4 linked regions of the Homo sapiens genome follow. The protein of the gene in region 1 interacts with the protein of each later gene in a biochemical or structural test. Each region holds a gene or a part of one and is shown on either strand. Other genes may lie near its edges. The genes, in order: TNKS2, USP25, STRN and CACNA1S.

What was found.
Region 2: the proteins of TNKS2 (region 1) and USP25 interact in a biophysical measurement, tested with the Homo sapiens proteins (one study listed by IntAct).
Region 3: the proteins of TNKS2 (region 1) and STRN interact in a biophysical measurement, tested with the Homo sapiens proteins (one study listed by IntAct).
Region 4: the proteins of TNKS2 (region 1) and CACNA1S interact in a biophysical measurement, tested with the Homo sapiens proteins (one study listed by IntAct).

What each region holds. Positions count from the first base shown.
Region 1 is NC_000010.11:91,801,409-91,808,434, forward strand, and holds part of TNKS2 (poly [ADP-ribose] polymerase tankyrase-2), read left to right. Parts: intron 1-7,026. UniProt on the Homo sapiens protein: Poly-ADP-ribosyltransferase involved in various processes such as Wnt signaling pathway, telomere length and vesicle trafficking.
Region 2 is NC_000021.9:15,725,209-15,732,988, forward strand, and holds the start of USP25 (ubiquitin carboxyl-terminal hydrolase 25), read left to right. Parts: upstream 1-4,773; 5' UTR 4,774-5,185; coding exon 5,186-5,230; exon of another isoform or gene 5,231-5,480; intron 5,481-5,794; exon of another isoform or gene 5,795-7,780. UniProt on the Homo sapiens protein: Deubiquitinating enzyme that hydrolyzes ubiquitin moieties conjugated to substrates and thus, functions in various biological processes including inflammation and immune response.
Region 3 is NC_000002.12:36,851,524-36,858,549, forward strand, and holds part of STRN (striatin), read right to left. Parts: intron 6,501-7,026; coding exon 6,333-6,500; intron 3,830-6,332; coding exon 3,689-3,829; intron 1-3,688. UniProt on the Homo sapiens protein: Calmodulin-binding scaffolding protein which is the center of the striatin-interacting phosphatase and kinase (STRIPAK) complexes.
Region 4 is NC_000001.11:201,102,419-201,109,444, reverse strand, and holds part of CACNA1S (voltage-dependent L-type calcium channel subunit alpha-1S), read left to right. Parts: intron 1-7,026. UniProt on the Homo sapiens protein: Pore-forming, alpha-1S subunit of the voltage-gated calcium channel that gives rise to L-type calcium currents in skeletal muscle.

The sequences.
Region 1 (7,026 bases):
AATTGTTTCCTTTTCAGTCCGCCTGCCACTGCCCCCGACCATACGCAGATATACACAAGACAGGAATTTTTCTTTTTTTTTTTGAGATGGAGTCTAGTTCTGTCTCCCAGGCTGGAGTGCAGCGTCACGATCTCAGCTCACTGCAACCCCCACCTTCCGGGTTCGACCGATTCTCCTGTCTCAGCCTCCTAAGTAGCTGGGATTACAGGTGCGCACTGCCACGCCCGGCAAATTTTTGTATTTTTAGTAGAGACAGGGTTTCAACATGTTGGTCAGGCTGGTCTCAAACTCCTGATCTCGTGATCCGCCTGCCTCGGCCTCCCAAAGTGCTGGGATTACAGGCGTGAGCCACTGCGCCCGGCCAGGAATGATTTTTTTCCAACACAACAGAATTTGTAGAGGCAAGTTGGTGGTAGGGTGGCTGTTGCTCTAATTTTACTAAAAGCAAAAGTATCTGAAATTCTTGACAGTTAATGCCCTAGAAAACAGCAAATTTCAGTAAAGAAGACTCTGCTTCTGTGAACTTATTTCTAAAAAGTAAAGAAGAGGTGACACAAACTTGGGGAGAAAGTTATCTTGATGCCCATCATAGAAATGAAAGAAATATGTGGCATTCCTTACAATCTTAGAACTCTTGGAGTAGGGGTAGGAGCTTGCATTGTAGAGTCCTAGCTAAACAAGGTAACACTTATTTTATATTTATAGTATGTTATGTTACTGTTAGTATGAGTATGCTACTGAACCACATACATAGGACCAGTTAGACCGGACTTGGATTATTATATTCAATTGTGTGAATCAAATATAAGAGGGGATTTTTTTATTCAGAGGAGGAAAGTGGAATCAGAGCATCCAGAATTTATTGCACAAGCATAGATACGAAAATTAGTGCTGCTTATTCTAGAGATGAAAGAAGACTATACCATGTTATCGTCTTCACATATGTGGAAGAATCACAAAGAGTGAGTGGATATTACTTGTGTGGCTTTGGGAGTCAAAACTAAGGCCAGCAGGTGGAAGGTTACAAGGGGTCAGACAACCTTTAACAATATTCAGCGATCGAACTGTCTGGAAGTATCCAAGCAGTGGCTGGATTGGCATTTTTCAGAGATGTTGTAGAGAGGATTTCAGCCTAGTTCGACCAACAGGTTATAATCTCACTAGTACAAGAAAGTGGGATGATTCCTCCAATTGAAGGCTTTAGCTGCTCAGCTACCAAAGATATACTAGCTTTTGTGATTGCCATTCATATCTTTTCCCAAAATGATAACCATTGGAGACCTCCAATAACCTCTCAGTAACATTTTCTTCTTTGGCTGTAGGCCAACATCATAGTTACAAGAGATGCACAAAATTTATCCAACACTCTTCACCTAGAACTACAGTTATAGATTGTTGTTTTCAGGATTGGTTTTTGCTATGGGAGATAAATCATACATCAGCAGGAAACCCTAGTGTCAAATAAAGATCAGTCTATTTAGGAATTCATCATCTTTCTTGACTTATCAAATCTCCCAATGTATTATCAAGACTTTGAGCTATACCTTTGCCCTCAGCGCTTGCTGGATTTGGAGGTAGACAGTTGACTTCAATAACAAGAGTTTGGAGTACTCCTTTCAGTGTACCCCCATTCAGATGGTCAAAATTTCATCACCGTAGAGGCCATGGCGTTCTTTTCCAAGTTTCTACTAATCTGGCCAGACAGTATGTCTATCCCAAGTTGAGATGGGCAAAGTCCTCTCCCTTGTATTCTTCGTTCTTAAGAAGTATATGTGGGAAATAATTTTCTGGATCTTAGCAAACTAAAGTTAATAGTAAATGAGGCCCGGGCACAGTGCCACAGGCTATAATCCCAGCACTCTGGGAGGCAAAGGCAGGAGTATCACCTGAACTCAAGAGTTCAAGACCAGCCTGGGCAACAATGGTGACACCTCATCTCTACAAGAAAATAGAAAAATGAGCCGGGCATGGTGGCACAGAACTGACACTCTGGGAGGCAAAGACAGGAGTATCACTTGAGCTTAAGAGTTCAAGAGCAGCCTGGGCAACATGGCGAAACCCCATCTCTACAAAAAAATAGAAAAAGTAGCCAGGCATGGTGGTGCAGGCCTGTAGTCCTAGCTACTTGGGAGGCTAAGGTTAGAGGATTACTTGAGCCAAGGCTGCAGTGAGCCGAGATTGCGCCATTGCACTCTAGGCTGGGCAACAGAGGGAAACCTTGTAACACAAAATAGTAAATGAGAAGTTTAAAATGACATTCCTCAGAAAAAATGTGTCACTGAGAGTCCTGGCTAAAGGTTGCTTGAAAGCTGAAGGCTGTTTGATTATACCTTCCAATCTCCCAGACTACAGGAGCTTTGTTTTGTGGCATTTGTTGACATTTTTCCAGAACTTTGCCTTTGGACAAAACCCTGTGTGATAGCCTACCTTTAGATATTGCAAGACATCACCATCTCATATGGGACCAATTGTGTTATCAGTGATTAATCCCACCTTTGGACTATGAAAGACAGGAGGGGGATAGCATTTAGTTAAACTTCCTAAGAGTCTAAGTTGGTTTCTCTGTAGGAACTTGACTGCCTCACAGCTTTTGGGAAACCATTCAGATGAAAGCATGTTTCCAGTGTAGCAGCAAAATGTGATATTATTAACAATAGTCATAGTTAGCAAGCAGTACCTGGAGTTGCTGAAACTGATGGCATCTAGATAAGTAATAAATTTGACAAGAGGCTGCTTTTCTCTGTTTTCACAAATCATTAACACCATATTCTTTGTGAGGATCCTTTCCTATTCCAGCAGAGTATTAGACATGCATTAAACAAATGTTTGTCAAGTCCTGCTATATGCCAGACACTGACCTTGTCCCTGAGTAAACTGAAATGAACAGGACACAATACCTGCCATTAACTGACACATGGTTAATGTGGTCAACAAGTATACTTTACAGATAGGCCTGCTTTGCTTCACTGTAAGTACTATATAGTAGATTCATACTCTGTGTATGGTTTCATCAGAATTTTCACAAGTAGAACAGTGTTTGAAGTTGAGTGCTGTTCCATAATTACAAAATAAACTACAGTGTGTCCTGAGCAGCCATGACTACCAACTTTATTTAGGCTTCTGGTTCCTCATAAAGAGATCCTTAGAATATGGAGATTTACATTGACTCTGATGATATGCCTATTCATGTTCTACCTGGCCAGTGAGAACATGATCAGAATATACCCTGCAGAGCATTTTTTCTTCCAGAAATTGGTGCTTAACAGAAGTACTTTGAACTATTCTTGAGACCATAACAATAGAGATTTTATCAAGGATTACTCCTCAGTTTGGGAAGTATGGTTTTTTGGGGGTTGTGGGGGTGAGGCACAGAGTTTCACTCTTGTCGCCCAGGCTGGAGTGCAGTGGTGCGATCTTGGCTCACTTCAACCTCCACCTCCCAGGTTCAAGCAATTCTCCTGCCTCCTGCTTCAGCCTCCCGAGTAGCTGGGATTACAGGTATGTACCACCACGCCTGGCTAATTTTTATATTTTTAGTAGAAACAGGGTTTCACCATGTTGGCTATGGTGGTCTCGAATTCCTGACCTCAGGTGATCCACCCACCTCTGTCTCCCAAAGTGCTGGGATTACAGGTGTGAGCCACAGTGCCCAGCCAGGAAGTATCTTCAATCTAAAGATTTCGCCAAACTCCAAGCAACTTTTTTTTTTTTTTTTAAACATAGCTACCTATTGACTGCCTCCAAATAATTTCCTTTAAGTGCCCAAGATGTGGCTTCAAACATTAAAATCTCAGACTATTAATCTACTGTCTCAGCATAGCAGATTACATTCACTCACATATTGTAGTCCTTACAGTGTGACTGTAAAATCATACCTCTACTATCAGTCACCAGACTGGTTTCAGACATCTTAATGACTAGGGAATCATGTTGATACAGACATTGACACAGAAGTCTGTGTCTTGGAATGTTGGTAACTATGTGGATATAATCACTTTACCCATTCTACCCATATCGATCGCCTCAGCTAAAACTTCAGTTTCAGTTATGTCTTTCTCTTTAACTCTGATTTCATGCAACCCTCTTCTCTTTCCAGCCTTATTTTGACAGAAGGCTACTACTTGACCTTCCTTTAGATCACCAATCCTTTGGGACAGATATCTTCCCAGTTGACACTGTCTCTCATAACAGCTAGTTATTTTACTCCAGCTATTTCTGTGCACATCTAACTCTCCTTTCTGGGGGAGTTAACCTGTGAGTCACCATTTTGATTACTTCAGATATGCTTATTACTGCTGAAGAATAGTAATCCTTATTCTAAAATGCTTGGGTACATCAAATAACTTTATAGAGGTAGCTTTACAGGTTTTTCTTTATTTTGATTCTTTTTCTCTTACTCTCCAATTTAAGAAGCCTTTTTCTAAAAGCACTTCCTGCAGGTGGGTGCTAAGTGGTTGGGATAGCAGAACCATAGATTAGGGCAACTGTAGATAACCTACTTGGGGAGGACAGTGTGATCAGCAATGCCCAGGAAGTGATCAGGAAGGAAGGCTGAAGTCAGGGCTAATGACAGCAAGAGCTGACCTTCCCCTCTGACATTTTCCTACTTGGCTTCTGCAATGCCATTCTTTCTCTTTTTTTTTTTTTTTTTTTTATATTTTATCTAATATTTTATTTACTGATCTCTCTGAAACATGCCAAAATTCATATAGCTAAGGGAACTTACCATGCTAAAATGTTGTTCAACATGACAAATTTATACAAAACATATTTCAATGTAGTGCCTTCATTTCATTCTTGAGGAATCAACATTACATTTAGGTGGTGAAATTTAGGATACAAATATAATTATCAAATATCGTACTTCTAGTTTACTGGAAAACATAACAGTTGTGACAGTAACACCTAACACCTTGGTTAATTAAAGACAGAAAATGGGCAGGGGTGTCACAGAAGTATGCAAGGATTTGACAGTTCAAACTAATCCATAGCCCTTCTGAGAAACTACAGATGGAAAATATGTAGTAAATATTTCTGTAATATGGTGGTTTCAGTACATTATAGCACAGTGATCATCATTCCATTCATACACTCAAATAAATGCTGCTTCTGATCACTGAAAACTAGATTCAAAGTCATTGCTCAACAAGCTGATACTACAAATCCCTTATATTAACAGGTACTTTAAATGTGGAAATAAGGCAAAGCATACTTGTTAGTCACAATTACTTTTAGATATAATTGAGACTACACTGCTATACATAATTAGGTACACAGTATGTATAACAATGCATACTATGGTGTGGGGTTAATTCCAATTACCATATTTTATATTTATTGGTCACAACAGCATACATTTTATGCTCCAAAATACATGGATCTGACAAAATGGTTACATTTAATGTTCTTTTAAGGAAAGATGAACTAAATTTAAGAAGAATTGGTTTTTCCTAATATCTCATTTTCAAATTACTGATACAAATTTGCCAGAGAAACAATTACATGTTTTACCTAACATCAAATAATCTCCAGTTTCTAAGACAGATGCATTTCTTGTTCAGTTTCCAAAAGTAAATAAAGGCTTTCTAACTGAAAACATTTGCATCCCTAGCTCTCTAAAGTAAACATTAAAAAGAAAATTACAAAAAATGACCTCTAAGCTTCTGAACAGTCCACTTAGTTACATAAAGTACTTTCTGTCCCAACACTTTCTCTAATTCAAAAGATATTTACTTCCTAAGTACACGACAAAGTCTTCATTTCAAACCATTCACTCAGTTTCCATGGTAACATTGCGGGCTTCCTTGGCTACCATAAGTCGCATTAGTTGACTGTGGAATTTCTCAATCTTCTTTACATCTTGAGCTTGGTCTGTTTTATACACCAAACAAACTAAATCATCTGTTACTTTAACACACAAGTTCCCATCAGAATGCCTATATTTGAGAACCACACGTGCCTTCATAGGGTCAGCGAGGTAAAGCTTCTCGGCAGCGCGGCTGAACTCCTCCCAGGTCTGGTACTGCGGCATCGTGGCCTAGAGTGGAAAAGTAAAGAGAAGCAAGGCCTCAGAACCCGGCCCAACAAACTACCTACGTCCGGGAGTCGCCAACCGACGCGAGTCCTGCAATGCCATTCTTTCTTAGCTTTACTTCTCAGACTCCTTTTCATATACTGTGATACCTTAATTCAGCAAATGTCAACAAATTGCTCTGTACCATGTACTCTAAAGGATGCTGGGGAAGTAGTGATGAATTAAGATGCACATGGCTCTTGTCCTTCATGGAACTAAGAGTCTAGAAAATGCCGGGCGCAGTGGCTCATGCCTGTAATCCCAGCACTTCGGGAGGCCGAGGCGAGCGGCTCACGAGGTCAGGAGATCGAGACCATCCTGGCTAACATGGTGAAACCCCCCCTTTACTAAAAATACAAAAAAAATTAGCCAGGCGTGGTGGCGGGCACCTGTAGCCCCAGCTACTCTGGAGGCTGAAGCAGGAGAATGGCATGAACCCGGGAGGCAGAGCTTGCAGTGAGCTGAGATTGGGCCACTGCACTTCAGCCTGGGGGACAGAGCGAGACTCTGTCTCAAAAAAAAAAAAAAAAAGAGTCTAGAAAATAAGGCAGTAATTACAAATTTTAATAAGTGACAAATACTGCTATGAACAGCAAAGACAAAAATCCCTGTTGTATGGAGCTTGCATTCTAGTGAAGGAGGTGGGAGATAGACCAACTAAATGGTGTGAAGATAGGAAAAAATGTGGATGGGCAGAAGGGACTATTTTAGATGGGATGGTCAGGGATAGCCTTCTTAAGGAGGTGACATTTAAACAAACCAGGTAATGAGTAGAAGTGAGGATGCTTTGTGCAAGGGAAGAGCATTCCAAGCAGAAGGGTGGCATGTACCAAGTCGCTGACATACTTGACAAACTGAAAGTATATTATAGTTGGGAAAGGGAAGAATCGTGTGAAATGAAATTAGAGAAGAAGTTGAGGGCCAGTTCATGAAGGAGCTTTTAAGGCCATAGT
Region 2 (7,780 bases), on another chromosome or scaffold:
CCAGTACCTTTCCTTTGCCTGTTAGCCAAATCTGTTTCAAACCCATCTGACTTACGAGCGTGAAACATGCAGGGATAGTCCTCTCTGTGATTTACAGCAGAACAATAGACGCTCAAGGAATCAATCTCGTAGCAAATAGGAACTAAGGCTTAAGTAACTTGCCCACGATCACAGAGCTAGAAGTCCCTGGGTTGTTCTTCAGGGATCATGTGCGCTGAACATGGGAGATAGGTCTTGGAAAGTGACATTAGTCACATTCTGACATGTGGTTTTCTCTGCCCATATATATCATAGGATAATTTCAGGGAAATGTGTGCCCACCAATATGGTGGGAGAGACTTTGTCTTTTGAGTATAGGTGAATGGACTAAAAAGTGATGAGAAAAGGTCTGAGGCCTCCAAGCCATTTTCAGTGTGCAAGTATAACTTCGGGCCTGTTCAAGGTAAGTGAAAGCAAGTGATGCAGGCAAGAAATAACACACTTTTGCACTGGCTCTCCGTTGATAAATTCTAGCTGTTTCTCCATAGTCCTTACTTTCTAGGTGGACCTTGCAAAGCACATTAGACTAGATTGCTTTTCAATGCACAAAACTTGTTTCCCCCAAAATGATTCTAATTGGAAGTGCCAATACTGGCAGAAAATGTGTGCAGGTACTAGCCTTTAAAGTGCTAATGCATCTCTTACCAATCTACGAAGTTACAGGATGGGGCATGAAAAAATATATTTGACGGCACAAAAGTATGAAGCATAGGATTAAGTAAAGCAGATTGAATATGACTGTTACGGGCTGAATTTTGTCTCTCTAAAATTCATAACCTCTCTAAAAAGTCCTAACCCCTAGCACTTCAGAATGTAACTGTATTTGAAAACAAAGTCTTTAAAGGGGTTATTAAGTTAAAATGATGCCATCTGGGTGCGGCTGAAATCAAGTATGATTTATGTCCTCAGCAGAAGATGAAGAGATACTGTGGGCACACACGGACCATGGAAAGAGGCAGTGAGAGGGTGGCCATCTGCAAGGCAAACAGAGAGGGTGCAGGAGAAATCAACCCTGCTGGCACCTTAATCTTGAATTCCCAGTGTCCAGAGCTGTGAAAAAATACATTTCTGTATTTTTAAGACACCCAATCTGTGGCATTTTGTTATGGCAGAACAGACAACTAATACAATACCAAAGAAGCAACATCTAGAATCCCTCAAAATGTGAGGCACTATTGAGGGCTGGAGAAACTAATAATGACACATTTTGTCATATAGAATAATATGGCTGGGCTGCCAGGACCACAAAGCTATCCACTTGGAATGAGAAGTTAGAGTTAGATGTGCACCACAAAAGCACAAATACATTTGTTTTCTCCCCTTCATGGCTGCCCACTTAATTCAATAAGCATTTTATTGTGCATGTATTAGGCAGGCAGTACTCTTGCAGGTTGTAATCTATGAACACCTGATTGCTAAATAGTACCATTATGACATCATAGAAGACTCCTCTTTAAATGATTGCTTATTGTTTTCTTTTTGCTCTTTTACATGGAGTCTTGCTCTGTCACCCTGGCTGGAGTGCAATGGCACATCTCGGCTCACTGCAACATCCGACTCCTAGGTTCAAGCAATTCTCCCTGCCTCAGGCTCCGAGTAGCTGGGATTACAGGTGCCTGCCACCACATCCGGCTAATTTTTGTATTTTTTAGTGGAGACAGTGTTTTGCCATGTTGGCCAGGCTGGGCTTGAACCCCTGACCTGAGGTGATCCGCCCACCTTGGCCTCCCAAAGTGCTGGGATTACAGAGGGGAGCCACCGTGCCCAGCCTGCTTATTGTTTTCTTATTGGTGGAAATAAAATTATCCCAGAATGCCAACACTCCTAAAGGAGGAAAATAATTCAGATCCTCATTGCAGTAGATTTAAAACCACTCTTTTGTAATGGAAATTGTCTAAATCTGCTCCATGGATTCAACAATTCTTTGCTGACATGCCTGTAATCCAGGTAGCTACTTCAGAGGCTGAGGCAGGAGGATCCCTTGAGACCAGGAGCTCAACACCAGCTAGGGGGGAAACAAAGAAAAGTCCTACAAATGTGTTTTGGCAATATGGTAAACTTTTGGTATCCGGAAATGGATTTTTAACCCCTTTCTAAAGATACCTAAGGCGGAAGAATACCAATTTTCTTAGTTGACATATAAAATACAATACTGAGTATTGCTAGAAATAACGTTTTGACCCAAAACAGAAAAATAGTCTTGCAGTTTGTCTTTGTCTATTTTATGCTGCTACAACATAATACCTATGAATGGGTAATTGATAATGATCAGAAATTTGTTGGCTCACAGTTCTGGAGGCAGGGAAGGTCAAGATGGATGGGCCGTCATTTGGTGAAGGCCTTCCTCCTGTATCATTGCATGGTGGAAGAGCTAAGAGAAGGGGAGAAAGAGAGAGAGGGAAGGAAAGGAAAAGGGAAAGAGGCAAGAAGGAGCCAAACTCGTCCTTTTATAAGGAAACTGTCCTTTTGATAGGGACTGCACATTTGTGATAGCACCATTAATTAATTCATGAGGTCAGAGCTCTCATAACTGAATCACCTCTTATTAGGGCCCACCTCCACACTGTTGCATTGGGGATTAAGTTTCCATCACACCGTTTTTGGGGGGATACATTCAAACCACAGCATTGTTACACACAAAATATTTCATATTATATGAAATATGTCACTTAACATTTTTACCTGAATGTCAACAACATAGAGTAATGTAGCAGTTTAGAAGTTATTAAATAATATCTTGAGGATATATAATTCCGACACACATGCATATTAAAGCTGACTCATACAACACAATTGTCACGGCGCAAATTTAAAAAATGAGTTAGGAAATCCCAGCGATGGGTTTTGTGTGCCAATTTATCTCAATTGCTCAAATTTCTCTAATTATTCATCCCAATTGTAAGCCTTCTAAAAAGGAATGCCTATGAGGAAACTTGAAATTTTCTTCTCAATGTTCTTCAGTACAACAGTTAAAAATATTTAAAGAAATGCTGAGTAAGTAGGAAACCCTCAGAAGTAAGCTGAAAATGAACAGTCTCAGTGGGCAAATAGGTCTACCATATAAAAGCTCTATTTGATGATTATCTATTGTAAGATCATCTTTTTTTTTCTGTATGGAAGTAACAAATTTAACTCAGAGAAAAGTTGTATTGCCAAATTCTTGAAATTAAACCTTAGTATCTGGCAACATTTTTCCTCCCATGGTACTAGATTACTAGATTTTTATGTTAAATTTAATTTTCTTGAATTCAAATGTATGAGCTTGATTTCTAAAAAACAAACAAACAAACCAAAAAACCAAAACCCTCATATGGAGAAACATGAAGTTAGCATATAAACAAGAAAAGAAGAAACTTTGATCTATAAATGAAGAAAAATGGGTTTTGATAAGCTCTCTTTGACAGGTCACCCTCCTTGGGCTTCAGAGTTATAAAAAAATCGATACGTGAGATTAGAGATGTGACAGTATTTCTAAATTTCTGTTTCCAACCGTTTCATGACTTTTCATTTCCTCTAGAAAAGACATAGGATATTAATATAATAAGATTTGCAATTTGTTAAATATCAAATGAGTCAACAAATATGAAGCTTCAAGGAAAAGGTGACAACAGGTGGTACCAGACATCTGAGCTGCAGAACAAAGATGGTTGTAAAGTGCACAGAACTGTTACAAAGCCTTAAGAGCTACTATAATCCATGATTATTAAATAACACCACATACTATTTCAATTAGCATTTGCCAAGCTTGCTTTCCTTGTCATTGGATTAAAAATTATACCCGGATTTTCAAGTGTATTCTATTTGTGACAATATGCATTGATAATTTCTCTCCTCACACTGCTGCACTCTCACCTCCGTTCCCAGATTAGCTCCTGGAACTCGAGATATTTTTGTGGCTAGAGATTGCTTTCTTAATGTTAGATTTTCCTTACAATTCCATATATAGTCAAGCATTCCATGCATGGTAGTTAATTGTTTGCTTAATTTGGCAACTGGGATATTAGAATTATGTATCATTAGGCAGTGATATTTTTGTAAGGTTGTTTGCTAGATAGATCCTATTTCATTTATATTAAGTCTTGGGAAGATAAACTTTATTTTTCCAGAGCCTAGCAGTGACTGACACATATTCGAATGAATGAAGGTAGATAGAAAATGTCTATATTCATTTACGTAATGATTAGTTAAGGAGAAAAGTACTTCCCAGCATAAAGATTTCTGGCAACCCTTTGCTTATTTGACTTTTCCCTTCAGGCAAGTTCAAGGCTTGTGAAATTCCTAGAAAGGCGAGGGGAGAGAACGCGTGACACAGAAAGGGGCCGGAGTTCGGGACCCTACGCAGTTTTGGGACGTTATGGGCATGGAGGGAAATGTTTGCTTTGGAGGCTTTGGGTAAGCTAGGGATCCGACAAGCCCTGGGCGCAGGGAGGAACGCTGCCCTCCGGCCTCCAGTCGCGCTCCCCGAAGCCCAGCGCCAGCGTCGCGCAACCTGCCGCAGGGGCGGCTCCCGGGCCAGGCAGCCAGGCGCGCCCTCGCCCCACCCGGGAACGCCAGGCCCGCGCAGGGAGGGGCGGGGCTCCATGGCGGCCCCGCCCCGCCGCCCGGAGGGTCACAATGTAGGGTTAGGGCGGCCGGCGGGCGGGGCTCTGCGGGGGAGGAGCCGCCGGGCGGGGGCGGGGATGGCGCGTGGGGGAGGGGAGGGAGGAGGACTCGCGGAGGGAGGAGGACAACGCCATTCCGGGCGGCCGCTCCCTCCGTCCCCTCTCTCCCTTCCCCAAAGCAGCCCGCGGACCGGCAGCAAAGGAACGTGCGAACGCGTGACGCCGCCCGACTGGCTCGCGCTCTCCCGTGCCCCGGCGTCCTCCGCCCGCTCATGGCCCGGGCCGCCGCGGACGAGCGGCGCTGAGGCGGGCCGCGTGGAGACGTGAGGCGGCCGCCGTGGCCCTCACAGTCGGCGTTTCGCCGCCTGCCCGCGGTGCCCGCGCACGCCGGCCGCCATCGCCTTCGCGCCTGGCTGGCGGGGGCGCTGTCCTCCCAGGCCGTCCGCGCCGCTCCCTGGAGCTCGGCGGAGCGCGGCAGCCAGGGCCGGCGGAGGCGCGAGGAGCCGGGCGCCACCGCCGCCGCCGCCGCCGCCGCCGCGGGGGCCATGACCGTGGAGCAGAACGTGCTGCAGCAGAGCGCGGCGCAGAAGGTGAGGCGAGTCCGCCAGCCGGCGGGCCCCACTTCTCCTTCCGACGGGCTGTCCTCTCCCGCTGCGGCCGGGCGCCCCGGCCTCGCCGCCGCCGCCTTCCCGGGCTTCCTCCCCGGTCACCCCCGGCCCCTGCCCATCGCCTCGGGGGCGTCGCGCCCAGAGCCCAGCTGCGTGTGGGAAGCAGAGTGTAGTTTGCGGGCTTCAATCCACTTCCTTCTGCCGATTGTTTTCCCGTAGCAGACGGTGCCAGGTATTGAGAGCGACCCTCACATTCCTACAGTGCTCTGTGTGGCATCTTAATGAAACTTTATTCTCTCCCCTTAAATGAGAAAGAATAGCTAGTTGTCATCCTTTCTGAACCGATTTTGTCTTTCAAAGGTAGTAGTGTACCAGGCCTGCTATTTTGCAAAACGGTCTCCACCAAAATCGAATTACCTGCCTCGCGGGGCAGGCGTGTTGACCAGGTGGACTCTAGAAGTAGGTGGTTTGCTTGGTTTCTTTTCCTTTTAAGGTTTCCCTTTCTTCTTCTTCTTTTCTGTTTTTTTTTTTTTTTTTTTTTTTTTCAATATAGAAACTGTCCCTAAGAGAGGAAACCTTTCTGGCCATGTTATTCCAGGAATCTTTTGTCCCCTAAGTTTGACCTTGTTCTTTCGTTCACCCTTTACTCTTGCATCAGTCACACATTCAAATGGTCACTCACTAAAGAAAACAATTAAAAAACTGTTTGTGAAACTTTATATCTTTAAAGTGAATAGAGATCATTCTGCTATTTTAGATTTTGCTTTCAGAATCTTAAGTGCACTATCATGGCTTGCACCATGTTCTGAAGAGTAGTTGGCCATGATTTAACTTCTTTTTTTAATTTTTAATTTGCGTGAAAAGCATTTTGGGCAAAAGAGTAAACCGTGCCTTAGTTGTGTTGGTATTACGGGGACAGTTAGGGTTTACTGTGATCAACCACCAGAGTTATGTTTGGTTTATCTGGGTGAGTAATGAATGCCCCACCCTGTTGTAGATTTGGTGTAGATTGCAATATTCTACCTGTGCTTGACTTTAGAATAAGACCTGTTCTAAAATGGGCTGTCTACATACAGCCTGCTAAATTTTTGCTTTGAGATTATTTTTAGAATTTTATGATACTGCTTTAAAGTAATCGAAGATACTCAAGTTTGGAAAGCAAGGATAGTGCATTGTTATTTTAGGCACGTTGGGAAAGTTGTTTTTGAGACTTGTATGTTAGTTGATATTATTGGTAAAGTTAGAAGGATATTGCACACTGCACTTTATTTACAGTGAAATAATTCAAGATTTAATAATGAGAATTTAAAAGAGTTTCCTTCCTAATCCTCCCTATTCTATTTTGAATACCTTCAAGTTCAATTTTTAAAGACTTAAGGCTTAGGAAAGAGCACATGGTCATGTGAACGCTAAGCAATATTTAATATGTATGGTACCATTTGTTTATAATTGTCTTCAGTGTTGAATATTAAAGTCTGTTTCAAAGTGAGAAATACCAATTTTTCACTTCCTAAGTTTGAACAATGGGAAGAACTTTGTAAGTTTAGGATTTTTTTATTTTCATTTGATTTTGACTAAACTGTATTAAATAACTATGCAGGCTCTATTGTATGGTTCAGAGGTTATGCATAAAATTGTAGAATCAAGAATCAAGTTAACGAAAGTGATCTTGGCTGTCGAGTCCAATTTCCTACTTTAATGAATCCCCTCCACACACAAAGGGAGTAGTAGTTAATTCAAAATATTATCATTATGATGCTACTTTTAGTATGGCTGTGTTTTAGATCATTTCATTGTTATTGGGGATTTTTTTTAGAGAAACTTTTATACTTCCATAATATTTAGATTGTTTTACAGAAGAAACACTTAAATGTGTTTGCTTTCCGTATTAATACACGATTACTTTGTTACTCATATTAGAACTATTTAAAAATATTTATATGGATACAAGTAAACCATCTACCTCGATAAGTTGACAGATTTAAATCCGTCAAGCTAGTAACCAGGAAGCGGACTTAAAGCTGGTAACTAGGAAGTGAACTTCACACTTAGAAGAAACAAAAGTGAAAGTCTGTTTTTACTCAGACACTTTATGGGTTATCTAAAAGGAGAGGTGTGTAGTGTATATTGCATAGCCAACATTTTAGCCAGTTTTCTTCTCACCTTAAAAAACTGTGTGTACATATGTGTTTTTAAATTTTAAGTATTTACTATTTAAAATTTAAGTATTTACTATTTAGCTATATTATTTTCAAGATTTTTAAAACTTTTATTTTGCAGATGGATGTAAGTTTTTTTGTTGTTTGCAGCACCACACTACACAAAACTTTCATGATTTTTTGGTTCGCCTATAGAATTCATTAGTCTTTGTCACAATGTAGTATGATGAGGCAAGAGGCTGCCTTTCCCTTTTGATGTGTTCTTTGCTTGATTGCTGGAGTTTGGCCAACCCAGGGACTTATGAGATGTAGTAAAACTGCAGAAAGCTGCTTTTCTGAGGTTTAGGTATTTCAGGTGAGGTGCAGTTGGCAG
Region 3 (7,026 bases), on another chromosome or scaffold:
GACTTTCATTATTTGTCTTTAGTTCATTTATTCTGTGACTGTTTTCAAAATTTCAATGTTAGGAAAGAGAATTGCCTGATAAATCTGGAAATATTTATAAATTACAATTTCCTGCTATATGTGGGTGCCATCTATGGCTTAGTCTAGAGCCACTAACGCTGTTCATTCTACAATGTTCTGTGAGATTTTGCTACTTTAAGTAAGTTCTATCATCACTTACATGGAGATAATTCTCAAATTTAAATCTCAGCTCTTTTTGCATACAAAGTTCTGTATCACATCATTATCATCTAAAGATATATATGACAAAGAGGGCTTCTTAATCCTTAAATCCCTTTATCACTCTTCCTCATCATAATAGAAATGGTCATTTGACAGAACTAGGTTTGGAATCCTAAAAGTCAGCATCCTAACTGTATTTTTTGTGTTAGTAAGTTCCAAAGAAACTTCAATTATACACACAATGAGACAGGCAAGCACATATCATTAAGCCTATATTACAGTGAACACATCAAGGTTCAGAAAAAGTTGTGACTCCTCCACAATCAGGTGACAAAATCAGTACCTATTCTAACTTCTGACTCTCTCCCAACCTGATGGTTCATGCAGATCACACAACTGTCAAAATTGGTTCCTAAATGATCACACATTCTTCCTGAAAGGCTTTTATTAAAAAGAAATCAGTAATTTAAAACCTCAGTGATTTCTGTTAAGCTTTTTTTAAGAGAAAAGAAAAACTGACATAAAGAAAACACTAATTGAAGGTATGTCAAAGTTTTAAAAATTAAATTATGGTCCAGGGAGAGGAAGGGGTGTCCTTGTAAAATATATTACTGGAACAACTCTCAAAATTTGAATATAAATAGTAATTCAGATAATAGTATTGTGTCAATGTTAAGTTTCCGGATTTTGATCATTGTAATACACTACATCAGAGAATGCCCTTGATCTTAGAATTACACGCTAAAGGATCTAGGGGAATAGGAGCATGACGTCTCTCATATGGTTCAGAATTAAAAATTATACACATATATAGAGTGAAAAAGCAAATGTGACAAAATGTTAAAAACTGCTAAATATGTGTGAAGGGTAGCCAGAAGTTCTCGTACTATTTTTGTACCTTTTCTGCAAGTTTAAAATTATTTCAAAATAGAGTTTAAAAAATTTTTTGAACCCTAGAATAGGTATTACAAGTTTATATTCACATAATAGAAAATACAGCTAAAAATAGTCTAATCTTACAGGATTTTCATGTGGCTCCTAGAAATATAACATCTTAAAAACTGAAGACAGTCTTTTCCCAATGCTAGTGGCAGGTAATTACCCAGCCTGTTATTTAAATATAAAATGTGGCTGGGCACGGTAGCTCACACCTGTAATCGCAGCACTTTAGGAGGCCGAGGCAGGCGGATCACTTGAGGTCAGGAGTTCGAGACCAGCCTGGCCAACATGGTGAAACTCTGTCTCTACGCAAAATACAAAAATGAACCAGATATGGTGGCACACGCCTGTGGTCCCAGCTACTTGGGAGGCTGAGGCAGGAGAATCGCTTGAGCCCAGGAGGTGGAGGTTGCAGTAAGCTGAGATCGCACCACTGCACTCCAGCCTGGGCAACAGAGCGAGACTCTGTCTCAAAAAAAAATAAATATAAAACAAAAACTCACTTGACCATGTGGAGTAAGTTCTTAGTCAGTTACACCTGGTTTAGATCCTAAACAAAGAGATGTTTATTTATAAAATTCAGACTACGCATTATTTCCTCCACAGATAATACTCCATTGAGCAACACCCGTGGTAAAGTCCAGCAAGAGAATAACAGTAACAACAAAAAAAGAAATACTTTAAGTGAAATATCCCATATATTCTGAGAGAGACGTTTCAGAGAATAGCCTCAATTGCTTTGAGAGCTAGAAAATAAATATGATTGAAATCAAATCATGGAAACAGGCAAAAGAAAGTTCTTATTTGGTAACACTTTTAAGGAAGCTTCTCCACTTGATGATAAATCAGAGAAGTCGGCAGAATGCAAAGAACACTACTCATACCTAGCTTGTGACGTATCTGCTTCAACTACCTTTGACTTTACCACAGTCAAATCGCCATTGACATCAATGAGAAGAAGGGTAATTTATTCCTATTCTAACAAACATCCTTCATCACTTTAAACTCTATATAAAACTCACTTTCTCCTTGAAGCTTGTTTGGTCCTTTCATTTTTTTAAAAAAATATGCTAAATTCCAAAACAGAACAACACAATCAATTATAAATAACAAGGGGTAGTTCACAGTAAAACATAATAAGAGACTAATTTAAGTTTTCTTTATACAACTTTAAAAGTAAAAAACATAATTTAGAAAATGTCAGGACATATTACAACTCAAAATAATGATCATTTATTCCAGTAATGTTGCCTTTGTTAAAAACATTCTTGGAAGTTTTCTCAAAATGTTTCCAGTGTCAAGTAAAAAGTCCTATTAATTTAGAGTCACATCTCTTGGGGGAAAATGTGGATTCACTCGCCTAGTTCTCTTTATCCATCTTATCTACCAGACTTGACATCTTATTAACCTGCAGTCATTAAAAAGCACTATTTCCACTCAGGATGTTCACAAATTGGCCATATAATCTCTGAAGGTAATTACAAAAATGTTCTCATCCTTTCTAATTTCATATTAGTTTTTTATTTTGCTACTGTAGCTTTGAGTCATATATTTAAACATGATTTTAAATTTATTGAGAGTCTAAAACCTGTAATTTCTTGCTGAAAAAAATTCTCCTTTTCCAATTCTATCACCTGAGTTTAATTTATTTTCCTGTCTCTCTCGTTTACATCCAAGTAGCTCAAAGTTCTATTCATGCTTACTTCCCCAAACAAGTCTCAGCATATCAGAAGAAAACAATGAACAACAGGTTAGGAAGGGAAAATGATGAAAACCACAAAGGAATAAAGAAACTTTTTGAGAGAGAGAGAGACAGAGAGTGAGAACACCACAAGAACATATGTAAACATATGCATGTACATGTTCACACATGCATGTGCACACACACAACATATCATCACTTTTAAAGCTAGTTCTCAGATTAAAACAAGAGTATATGTATGTCGTATTCTTCATCAACTGCAACCTAAACTGTGATTGTCTAGATTATGGCTAACGACAGAAAGCAATGGTTAAGAAAGCCAAAAACCAAAAAAGAGTCTGTAATATCTTCTTCATAACCTGAAAAAGCACTTATTTCCTGACTTCCTGCATCCAATAAGAAGCTTCAGGTTTGGAATTCTGAGTGCCACAACATGATCTGTATTGAGCTGTACCAAATCATACTATTAATATAAAATTAAGTTGATTTAAAATATGAAATTACGAGAAATGAAAAATAGAATTTCCTATTCAGAATAAATATGGCTTTCTTCAAATAGAATTGAAAATTAATCATTTAGTATAAAATAAAACTTGACCCATAACAGCTCAAATGCTATTTCAAACAGTATAGTTATAAATGTACATAAACTTAACCCAAATTCTTAAAAGGTAAATAATTACAACCTTCTAAGTAACTGTGTTCTGAAAGTTAAGAGACAGAAAGCTTTATAATGACAAATATTTTTCACAGCTGACTCTAGTAGTCGTAATTTTGATTAAGTTAAAAAAATAAACACAGACAATTTAAAATTGGTATGCATACTTGTATCTACATTGGATTCTAAAGTGAGAATGCGTTGTTGTGTTTCCATGTTAAAAATGCTTGTATATCCCTTGCTGAATGATGCTACCATATGGCTCGGGTCACTGCTCACTAGATCCACAGAGGCAGGGATTCCCAGTTCTGAAAGAGAACATATTGAAATAGAATGGCAATTAAACCATCTACTTGACAATCTGCTTAAAATAGAGCAAAACAAAAAATGGCATGGTTTCCTTAAGAAGTAAACAAGGCTTACCATTAGAATAAGAATTAGCTCATAACTATTCATTGGAGATTATTTCTTTGTAACTTTTAGCCCTAGTCTATTTATTTCCCTTACCTGCTTAGCAGATCTTCTACCTGTTACTCAACTGATATATTCATGGAATGCAAGCCTTTATTTAGAGAGCAAATGGAAAACATGTATGAATTACAAATTTTGCTGCTTCCGCCCAACCTCAAGCTTAGAGTGACATAGTGGGAATTCTTCATTTTAAAAAACCCATCTCTTATTAGGGATGTTAGCTCATCAAAAATAGAGAAATTAAAAAGTAAAATTTAAAATTATTATTTATCGTTAGAGTCATGCAAATACCATATGAAGACAACTCATCAAAGCCTGGAAAGAAGTTATAATAGCTCAAGAATACAGAAGGTATTTTTATTTACCATCTAGAATACATGAAAACTTAGAGCTTATTTATAAACATAAAAATAGAAGGAAACATATAAAGTGAATATAATAATCTGATTTTTTTCATTTGGCTCAAAATCTAACTACAGCAAGGTAACAGTTCAAAAATGTGCATACTGCAGAAGAAGATACACAAATAACCAATAAGCAAACAAAAGAAATGCTCATCAAAATTAGCCATCAAAGAAATGCAAATAAACTATGATGAAATACTACTACACATCCACCAGAATGGCTAAAGTTAAACAGACTGACAATACTGTATGTTTGTAAGGATGCAGAGCAACTGGAATGCTCATACACTGCTGTCAAAGGTGTAAAATGGTACAACTACAAAATTTTTTTGAAAAATTTTTAGTGACTTCACATAAAGTAAAATAAACATCCACCTGAAAGCCCAGCAATTCTAAGTCTCTACACACCTATAATGAAAATATATGAATGTTCATAGCAGCCTTGTTCAAAATAGCAAAAAACTAGAGACAACCCAAATATCCATCAAGATATAAATGAATAGACAAATTATGGCTTAATGAAATACTATCAAATAAAAATGAAAGAAATAATTGATATAACACAAATGAATTTCCAAAACATTATAATGAAGAATAAAAGCAAGATACAAAGAACACATACTTTACTATTCCATTTACATGACGTTTGAGTAGATAAAACTAATCTATGATGAAAGAAATCACAACAGTGGGTACCTCTGGCTGGGAATAAGGAAAGGAGGGGACTGACTTGGAAAGACACGAAGGAACTTTGGGGAGATAAAGGAAATGTTCTATCTCTCATACGGTTTGGATCTGTGTCCTCACTCAAGTCTCATGTCAAACATAATCCCCAATATTGGAGATACGGCCTGGCGGGAGGTGATTGGATCATGGGGTGGATTTTCCCCTTTGGTGCTATTCTCGTGATAGAGTTCTCACAAGATTTGGTTGTTTAAAAATAGGTCCCACCCCCTTCTTCCTCCTGCTCCGGCCATGTAAAACATGCCTCCTGTCCCTTTGACTTCCACCATGATTGTAAATTGCTTGAGGCCTCCCCAGAAGCCAAAGAAAAGTTGCTATGCTTCCTGTACAGAACCGTCAACCAATTAAACCTTTTTTTTTTTTAAACAAATTACCCAGTCTCAGGTATTTCTTTATAGTGGTACGAGAATGGGCAAATATAGTCTTTTTTTTTTTTAAAGAAAATGTAGAGACAGGGCCTCGCTATGTTGCCCAGCTGGTCCCAAATTCCTGGCCTCTCGTGATCCTCCTGCCTCAGCCTCCCAAAGTGCTAGGATTACAGGTGTGAGCCACCACACCTGGATTCTATGTCTTGATTGATGTATGAGTTACATGGGTGTACTCATCTATCAGACTCACTGAAATGTATCCTTAATATCTGTTTTTCACTACATACAAATTATATCTTAATTTTTTAAAATCTAAAATCTGTGTGTTCTTTCACCAAAAACTATGCTTTCAAAAATTATAGGCTGGGTGCAGTGGCTCATGCCTGTAATCCCAGCACTTCGGGAGGCTGAGGCAGGCGAATCACTTGAGGTCAGGAGTTCCAGACCAGCCTGGCCAACACAGCAAAACCCTGTCTCTACTAAAAAAACTACAAAAATTAGCTGAGCGTGGTGGTGTGTGCTGGAGGCTGAGGCAGGAGAATTGCTTGAAACTGGGAGATGGAGGTTGCAGTGAGCCGAGATTGCGCCACTGCACTCCAGCCTGGGCAACAGAGTGATACTCCGTCTCAAAAAAAACAAAACAAAACAAAACAAAACAAAACAAAATTATATATAGGTTGGAAATTCAAACAAATACACTTTCGTGGCTTCAAAAACTTTCAAATTAAATTTAAAGAGTTCAGGGAATCATTTATCTGCTTGCTTATTTTCAGAATAAACTGTTTTATAGAGGATTCAGCAAAATAATTTTTTAAAGTATGTACCTTTAGTATCATTAAATACACTTAGTGCTGGAGCAACCTCAGTTGTATTCCATAAACGCAGAGTGCCATCTGCTGAACAGGACAACAAACGCTGATGTGCTGCACTATAAGCCAAACCCCAGACTGCATCCGTGTGGCCTAGCAGAGGGCCTCGTAAAACAGAAGGATCTATACAAAACAGTAAAAATGCAAAATCAGGAGAAAAACAACCACAAAGGTACTTAGATTTCAGAGAAAGTAAAATATATAAACAATAGCACCTGATAACAGTATAAAATATGATTCTTGGTTTCTATTATTCTTCTGACAGGCTACAGTAAATCAAAACAAGCTTGGAAATATACAAATATAAAGTTAAAAAATTTTAAATTAAAATTTAAAAGCACGTATTTTTCCCCCTTAAAAAAACTGAGTATTTCCTCCCCCTTCCTTTTGTCCTTCCATTTGTCTAAATATTTTTAAAGCACGTTGATACGAAATCATTTGAATTTAATTCATCTTTGGAGAAACCACAACTCACACTCCCTGAGGAAGTGAACAGAGAGGTCCTCTCCCTCTCTGAAGTCCCTTAGCACTTTGGCTATACTTCCTTCTGTTCACTTATCTTACTATATGATGGATGGCAGTTTTTCCTGAAAATATGGCATTCATAATGGACAGGAAGTGACATCTACAGGAATCCCCAAATTCTCAA
Region 4 (7,026 bases), on another chromosome or scaffold:
ATATTTTACATTATTGTATTATTTAATCCCTATAACTACTCCTGTGGGGTAAGTAACATTATTAGACCCATTTAAAAGACAAAGGAGACTGATATTCAGAGAGTTTAGGCACATTACCCAGGGTCACCCACATCTATATCTTGTGGTAGGGCCTCCAGCTTGGTCTCTCTGATTTTAGAACCTCTTTTTTTTTTTTTTTTTGAGACAGAGTCTCACTCTGTTGCCCAGGCTGTGTGATCTCGGCTCTCGGCTCACTGCAACCTCCGCCTCCTGGGTTCAAGTGATGCTCCTGCCTCAGCCTCCCAAGTAGCTGGGATTACAGGCGCCTGCCACCATGCCCAGATAATTTTCATATTTTTAGTTGAGATGGGGTTTCGCCATGTTGGCCAGGCTGGCCTCGAACTCCTGACCTCAGGTGATCCACCAGTCTCAGCCTTCCAAAGTGCTGTGATTATAGGTGTGAGCCACCACACCTAGCCAGAACCTGCTCTTGTACAGGCTGTGTTGCCAAGGTGATGGGTGACGGCAGAAAGACTTCTAGGGGAAGCCCTCTTATAAACAGTGGCCTCAGGCTCCCTAGGGGACAGAACAATGGAACCACCTTTTCAACAGGGCTTTTTTCCTGCACTGAAACTGCAGGGCCTGGGAGGGAGGAGGCATATTTGCATGTGTCCAGGGCCTGACACATCTCTGCCTTTCCTTTATGCTGGTTTCCATGGGAATCTATCTTGAGCTGATGGGAAGCTGGGATTCTAAATGTGTGCTTGCTATGAGGGGAAAACACTCTGAGCTCCTGAGTGTGGAAGGAGAGTGGGATTAAATGTTGGCAGGGCCAATGCCACCTTTGCCGGCAAGGAAGGCATTTCTTAAACTCTGGGCATTCTACACCATAGGGTTAGTCTCCATGTCCCTGAATGCAGGGAGAGCTCTAGGTCTACCCCACCCTTCAGGATTTCATATTTTTGGGCCTCAGTTCCCTGTGACATTGACTACTTTTGTAAAAAAACTCTGCCCCACCTTGGAGGATATTAAATTTTACCTCTGCTGGATGCAGTGACTCATGCCTGTAATCCCAGCACTTTGAGAGGCTGAGACGTGAAGAAATCTTGCATCCAATAGTTCAAGACCAGCCTGGGCAACATAGAGAGACTCCCGTCTCTACAAAAATTGAATTAGCGGGGCCTGGTGGTGCATGCCTCTTGTTCCATCTACTCGGGAGGCTGAAGTGGGAGGATTGCTTGAGCCTGGGAGGTCGAGGCTGCAGTGAGCCAAGATCATGCCACTGCACTCCAGCCCGAGTGACACAGTGAGACCCTGTCTCAAAAAAAAAAAAAAAAAATTACATCTTAATGGTTATGTCATCTTCCATCCTGAAACAAAATTGGCTCCCTTAACTGTTTCACGTGGTCCTGTGTATGTTTTTCTTTAGTTTGTGGGCTGGAGTTGCAAAACCTTGGGTTAGGCCTAGAGTTCATAGAGACAGTATTATGAGTTCCCTGCAAGTCGGAAACCTAATCAGAAATGTTTCCAAAGCAGCAAATGCCACCTGGCATGTCAGAGCTCTATGGGAAATGAATGCTCAGTGAGGACTCCTAACCTGACCCCTTAATTGTGAAGCCCAGAGAAAGTCGGTGATACCCAAGGTCGCTCAGCCACCTTCGAGCTCAGGGGTCCTCACTGTTCATGTCCACAAAACCCAGCAAGAGGGAGATGAGAGGAGTCAGAGTAGAAAAGGGCAGTAGGCACTCTCTCTCTTGCCCTATTGGCTGCTTTGTAGGTAGCAGAGAAGGGTTGGGGTCTTTCCAGTCATCCAGAATAACCCGTAGCTTTCAAGAAAGGAGGCCTAAGGTTTAATTATTCATGACCTTTCTCATTCATTTAACGAATGCATCTTTAGTGTCTATCACATCCCTGGCACATACTGGGGATATCACTGTGAACCAAATAGACACATTTCCCATCTTCACAGAGCTTCATTACATGGATTAAACAAGTAAATATAATAAAACCAATTAAACAGGTAGTTAAAATGAAATGGGAAAGGTTCAAGATTTGGGGATATTATGGTAGCATATTGACAGAGAACCTAAGCTAGTCTTGAGATCAGGAAGGCTTCCCCAAGTATGGGATGTTTAACCTGAGACCTAAAGGTTGAGGACAGGGACAGCTCACACAAGTGCCACCTATGCAGTCCCAGAGGACTCCCACTCAGAAGGGCCCCACATTTGGGGTTGAATGCTCTGTGGTCAAAGTATTGAGATTTTAATTAATTTTATCTTTGAATTTATGATTTGTAAGTGAAGTCCATTGGGACAATGGCACATGCACCTCAAGCTTGGAACCTTGGCTCACAAAAGGTCCTGACTTCTGCCATCTCCCTGCCTCTAAGGAGGGGCTCTCAGCTTGATGTTTTGCCCTCTGGGGTCCTGGGCCACTTGGCAGAGGCCTGAGTGGGAGAATGGGAAGGGCCGTGTCTCAGGGAAGGACATGGCTCTGGTTGTCTCTACCCTGGGCTGACATTGCTGCAGTCCATTCAGTAAATGACCTATGAGGTTGAGCCTCCAAGGCCCTCCCCGATTCTGGGTACTTACTGTTTCCCAGGAAGCAGAGATTGCAACACCCTTGGGTGCCGGATGTCCACTATGGGTTGAGGTGGTGGGTCTGAGTGAAGGGGAGATGCCTGGCTCCACACCTCCACCTCTGGCCAGGGCACAGGATGTCGGGCTGTGGGATGGTGAGGGTGGAGGGGGAAGATTAGGAGGAGGCGCTTGTGGCAATCTGCACTTGCCCTGCACAACACTGAACAGCAATCAAAAGACACCACAGTAGGCTGAGAAAGGGGCTGAAAGAAAGGGAAAAGCTTTATATTTAGTACCTTCATCAGCACTCATTTCCTACTGTTTGAACGTGGGGGCCCACATTTTCACTTGTACTGGGCCCCCCATTATGTAGCCTGGCTGTGAAGGAGCGCATTGTAGAAGGCCAAGCGGGAGAGGGGATTCTGGGCAGAGGAAGCCACGTGGGCAAAGGGCTGGAGGCAAGAGACAGAGAGGTCAGGGGGGGATTTAGAAAAATCTCTCAGGCCCCATGTGGAGCATGGATTGGGGTGACGTGGGGTGAGATGGGAAGCAGGGAAGGGGGCAGGGAGCCCAGGGAAGTCATCCAGGCAGGAAACAGGGGAGGCTGGGCCAAGGCACTGGTGATGGTAAAGATGGCTGTGAGGTGGCCTTAAGAAAGACCTGCCAGGTGGAATCCATGGTGAGGACTGGAGGTGGGGATGGAGGTGTGGGGGAGGGGGAGGATGACACTTGGGGGTCAGAAGTGGACAGAGCAGATGGCAGTATCACTTACCAAGACTGCAGATGGGGGTAGGGAGGAGGAAGGTGGTGAGTTCAACTTCAGATGTGTGGTGATACAGGTGCCTGTGTCCACTGATGGGTAATTGGATTTGCAGGTCCAAGCATTTTATGACAGAGGTTTCCTCACTTTGGCACATGCCAAACTGGCTGGGTGGGGCAGGGGCGGGGATGGTTGTGGGCAAGAAGGGCTTCCCTCAGTTGCCGTGTGTGCGAGCAGGGCCGGGGGTGTGACTGCTGTCTGTGGGAATAGGCTCCCTTGGCAGTGTCCCTCCATATCCCTTCTGCCAGCACTGGCTGAGGGTAATAGACTTGGGGCCCGGGTTTCCTGGGGCTAGAGGTACACCTCTGACTCTGCCTGCTCTGTGTCTGTGGGAAATCCCAGGATCTTCCCTGAATAGAAGAGGAAACTGAGGCCCAGAGAGAGCAAGGAGTCCTGGGAATGAATATGCAGCTGATCAGAGGGTGGCAAGAGGAGGATCCAGGATGCTGACATCCTGGCCAACTGTGGGATGTCACAGTGGCACGGGCCTCTGAAATCAGCCCATTATGGCATGGTGGTTATAAAAATGGGTTCTGGAGCTAGAATCTGCTTTTGAGCCCAGGCCCACTCACCTACTAGCTGTGTGATCTTAGACAAGTTATGTAACCTTTCTGTTCCCTCAGTTTCCTCCTTTATAAAATGGGGATGATATTGTATACTTGAGAGAGGTAACTGGATGAGTGAAGACCTTCTAAGTTGTAGTGCTTTATCTATCAACAGAAGGAACTTTGATCATGCAGGCCCCACAGAGCAGGCTCACCAGCCAAAAAGCCTATAGTCACAGAGACCCCCAGGTTGTTCTAGATTCAAAGGGTCTAACCCCCAACAGTTATGCCAAAGGATTATTTCAGGTAAAGAATTCCTCTTCACCCTGCCCATCGTTTGTCCCTGATTTCTCTTTAACTCTGTGTCTTCTCTCCTTGAAACCCCTAACTTTTCTTAATGGCTTTCCTGATCACCCCTCCCCAGTCCTCCAGCAAATCAGCAGCAGCAGCAGCAACAATGACATTCAATATTTATCGATTACTTGCATATTGTCAGTCACTGTTCTAATGCCTTATATGTGTTATCACACTGAATGCCCATGAGGCAGGTACTTTTATTTTTCTCATTTGTACAGAGGAGTAAACCACAGCGCAGAGAGGTTAGATCACTGCACATGCCCAGGTGGCTCTGTGGGCAGGCCTACATCCTTTATTGGGCAGGGTTACCATTCCAGCCTAGGCCAGGCTGAGGGGACCAATGTGGAAAAGCAAAAACAATTATCAGACTTCCTAATTGTTGGGCAGACATGATAAACTGATTGCTTTTGCTACATTATCTCATTTCACCCTCAAAGCAATCCTATGTCAAAGTATGATGTTCAAAAAGTGAAAACACAACTGTGAGTAAAATATCCAAGGAACACATATCAAAGATTAGTTCAACTCAAAAGAGAACAAGCAGGCGTGTGAAGCTGAGTTAAAGGGAATTAGAGCAGCAGAAGTTATGACACCGGAGAGAGAATGATGGAATAGGATTGCTAGGTTAGATACCAAGCTGGTTAATGTCCTACAGGGCAATAAAACTCTAACCATTGGGGTTATCTTCCTATCAGGCAGAATTCATTTGCATCTCTAGAGGACAGAATAGTGAGAGCTAAACAAAGTTACATTCCCTCCTAGGTCAGTGGTTTTCAAGGGATTGGGGAGGGGAAGTAGTTCTGCCCCAGAGGACATTTGGCAACAACTGGAATTGTGAGGGGGAGGGGCAGGGGCGGAGATGTGTCCTACTAGCATCTAGTGGGGTAGAGGCAGGGGCCCTGCAATGCACAGGACAGCCCCCTCCCACCAACAAAGAAGTATCCAGACCAAAATATCATTAGGGCTGAGGTTGAGAAACCCTGACCTGGATAATTAGATAATCCTTGGCCAGGCCTGTTATAAAATGCTCCAACATGATATTACAAAGATATGGCATCCTTTCTTTGCTTTATTTCCAAGTTCTGGATAATTTAGATTTTTCTTAAGTAGATGGTGCCTGCTCTCCTCGAGGGCAGGGCAGGGCAGGGCAGGGCCTGGCAAGCTCTGCAAGATGGCTGCCCATTTGGCCCCTCCTGGGCTGCAGGGTGGCTTCCCACCCCTCAGGCATCAGCAGGCTCCACCAGGCCCCTGTCGCATTCCTGGGGTTCAAGTTGCTGCAGCGTCCTCCACGAGGCTGGAGCCTAAGCCTCTGGCAGCCAGGGCGTTTGTCTTTTTATAGGGTCTGGAATGCGCTCGCCAACTCTTGTGGCCAGCAGCCCATTCCCCTCGCCATCTGGGGAGGCTGGGGCCTCAGAAGGACCGCAGCTCTGGCCTCACCCCTTAGAGATCCAGGACCTGCAGAGCACAGGGTGGTTTGAGCCTGGGCCACTGTACAGAGAAGTGATGGTGCTCCAAAAGGGTCTGTGGAAATGAATGAAAGCCTGGATTTTAGACCCACCTGGGAGCCTGCCCTCCCACCACTGCAAGAACTCAGGTCCCCTTTCAGGGCACTTAGATTCTCCCCCGCCCATCCCAACCCATGCCCCTTCACACCAGGCACAGGGGCTGCAGACACTGTAATAGCTGAACAACAGAAGCCTTGGAGGAAAGCCTTGGAGGAAAGCCTTTGCCCAAGCTTTGCTAGCTCCCTGGGGAGTCGCAGGAAAGGACGGCCTCTCAAGTCAAACCAACCTGCCTCCAATCTAGACTGGTTGGCAGCTTCCTAAACTCTCTGAACCTCCATTACCTCATCTGTGAACAGAGGACCACAATATCTTTCTTTCTTTTTTTTTTTTTTTTGAGACCAAGTCTCCTCTGTCACCCAGACTGGAGTGCAGTGGCACGACTTCACCTCACTACAACCTCCACTTCCCAGGTTCAAGCAATTCTCCTGTCTCAGCCTCCCGCATAGCTGGAACTACAGGCACACGTCACCACACCTGGCTAATTTTTTTTTGTTTTTAGTAGAGACAGGGTTTCACCATGTTGGTCAGGCTGGTCCACAATATCTTTCTTTTCAGGACTGTTATATCCATGAGTGCAACAACCTCGTGTCTGACCTGGCACACAAGAGTTGCTCAATAAATGTTCATTCCCTTCCTTCTCTGACCTCCCAGCACTAACAGCCCACAGCTGAAGTCACACTGAACCCAAGCCTCGGGGGGCAAAGACAGACCTGGGGTGGATTGAGGGCGGGATCTGACAAATGTACCCAGGTGTCCCAGGCATACTGTATCTTTCTCTCCCCTCTGCCTGGCATAGTGGTTGAGACCATGGAGTCTGGAATCAAACTGTCTATACATATCATGGCTCTGCCTCTTGGTAGCTATGTGATCCTGGAGAAATTAATCCCTCTGTGCTTTGGCTTCCTCATCTGTAAAATGGGATAAGAGTACCTACCTTAGTCGGCTGTCGTCCGAAGCTAGGGAGGATGATGATGGACTGCTCCGCACAGACTGGGATGCGTGTTGGGTATGGGTATGACTGTATGTCCACTCTCAGTGGGAGCTGGGCAACACGGAGGAGTTGGTGGTCCTGTTGCTTGCTGATGGAAATATGTCGGGCCTTCCTTTTCAACTGGTTCCTCTATTGGGCCCAAGGGTTGGGAGTAGGAGACAGTATCCGA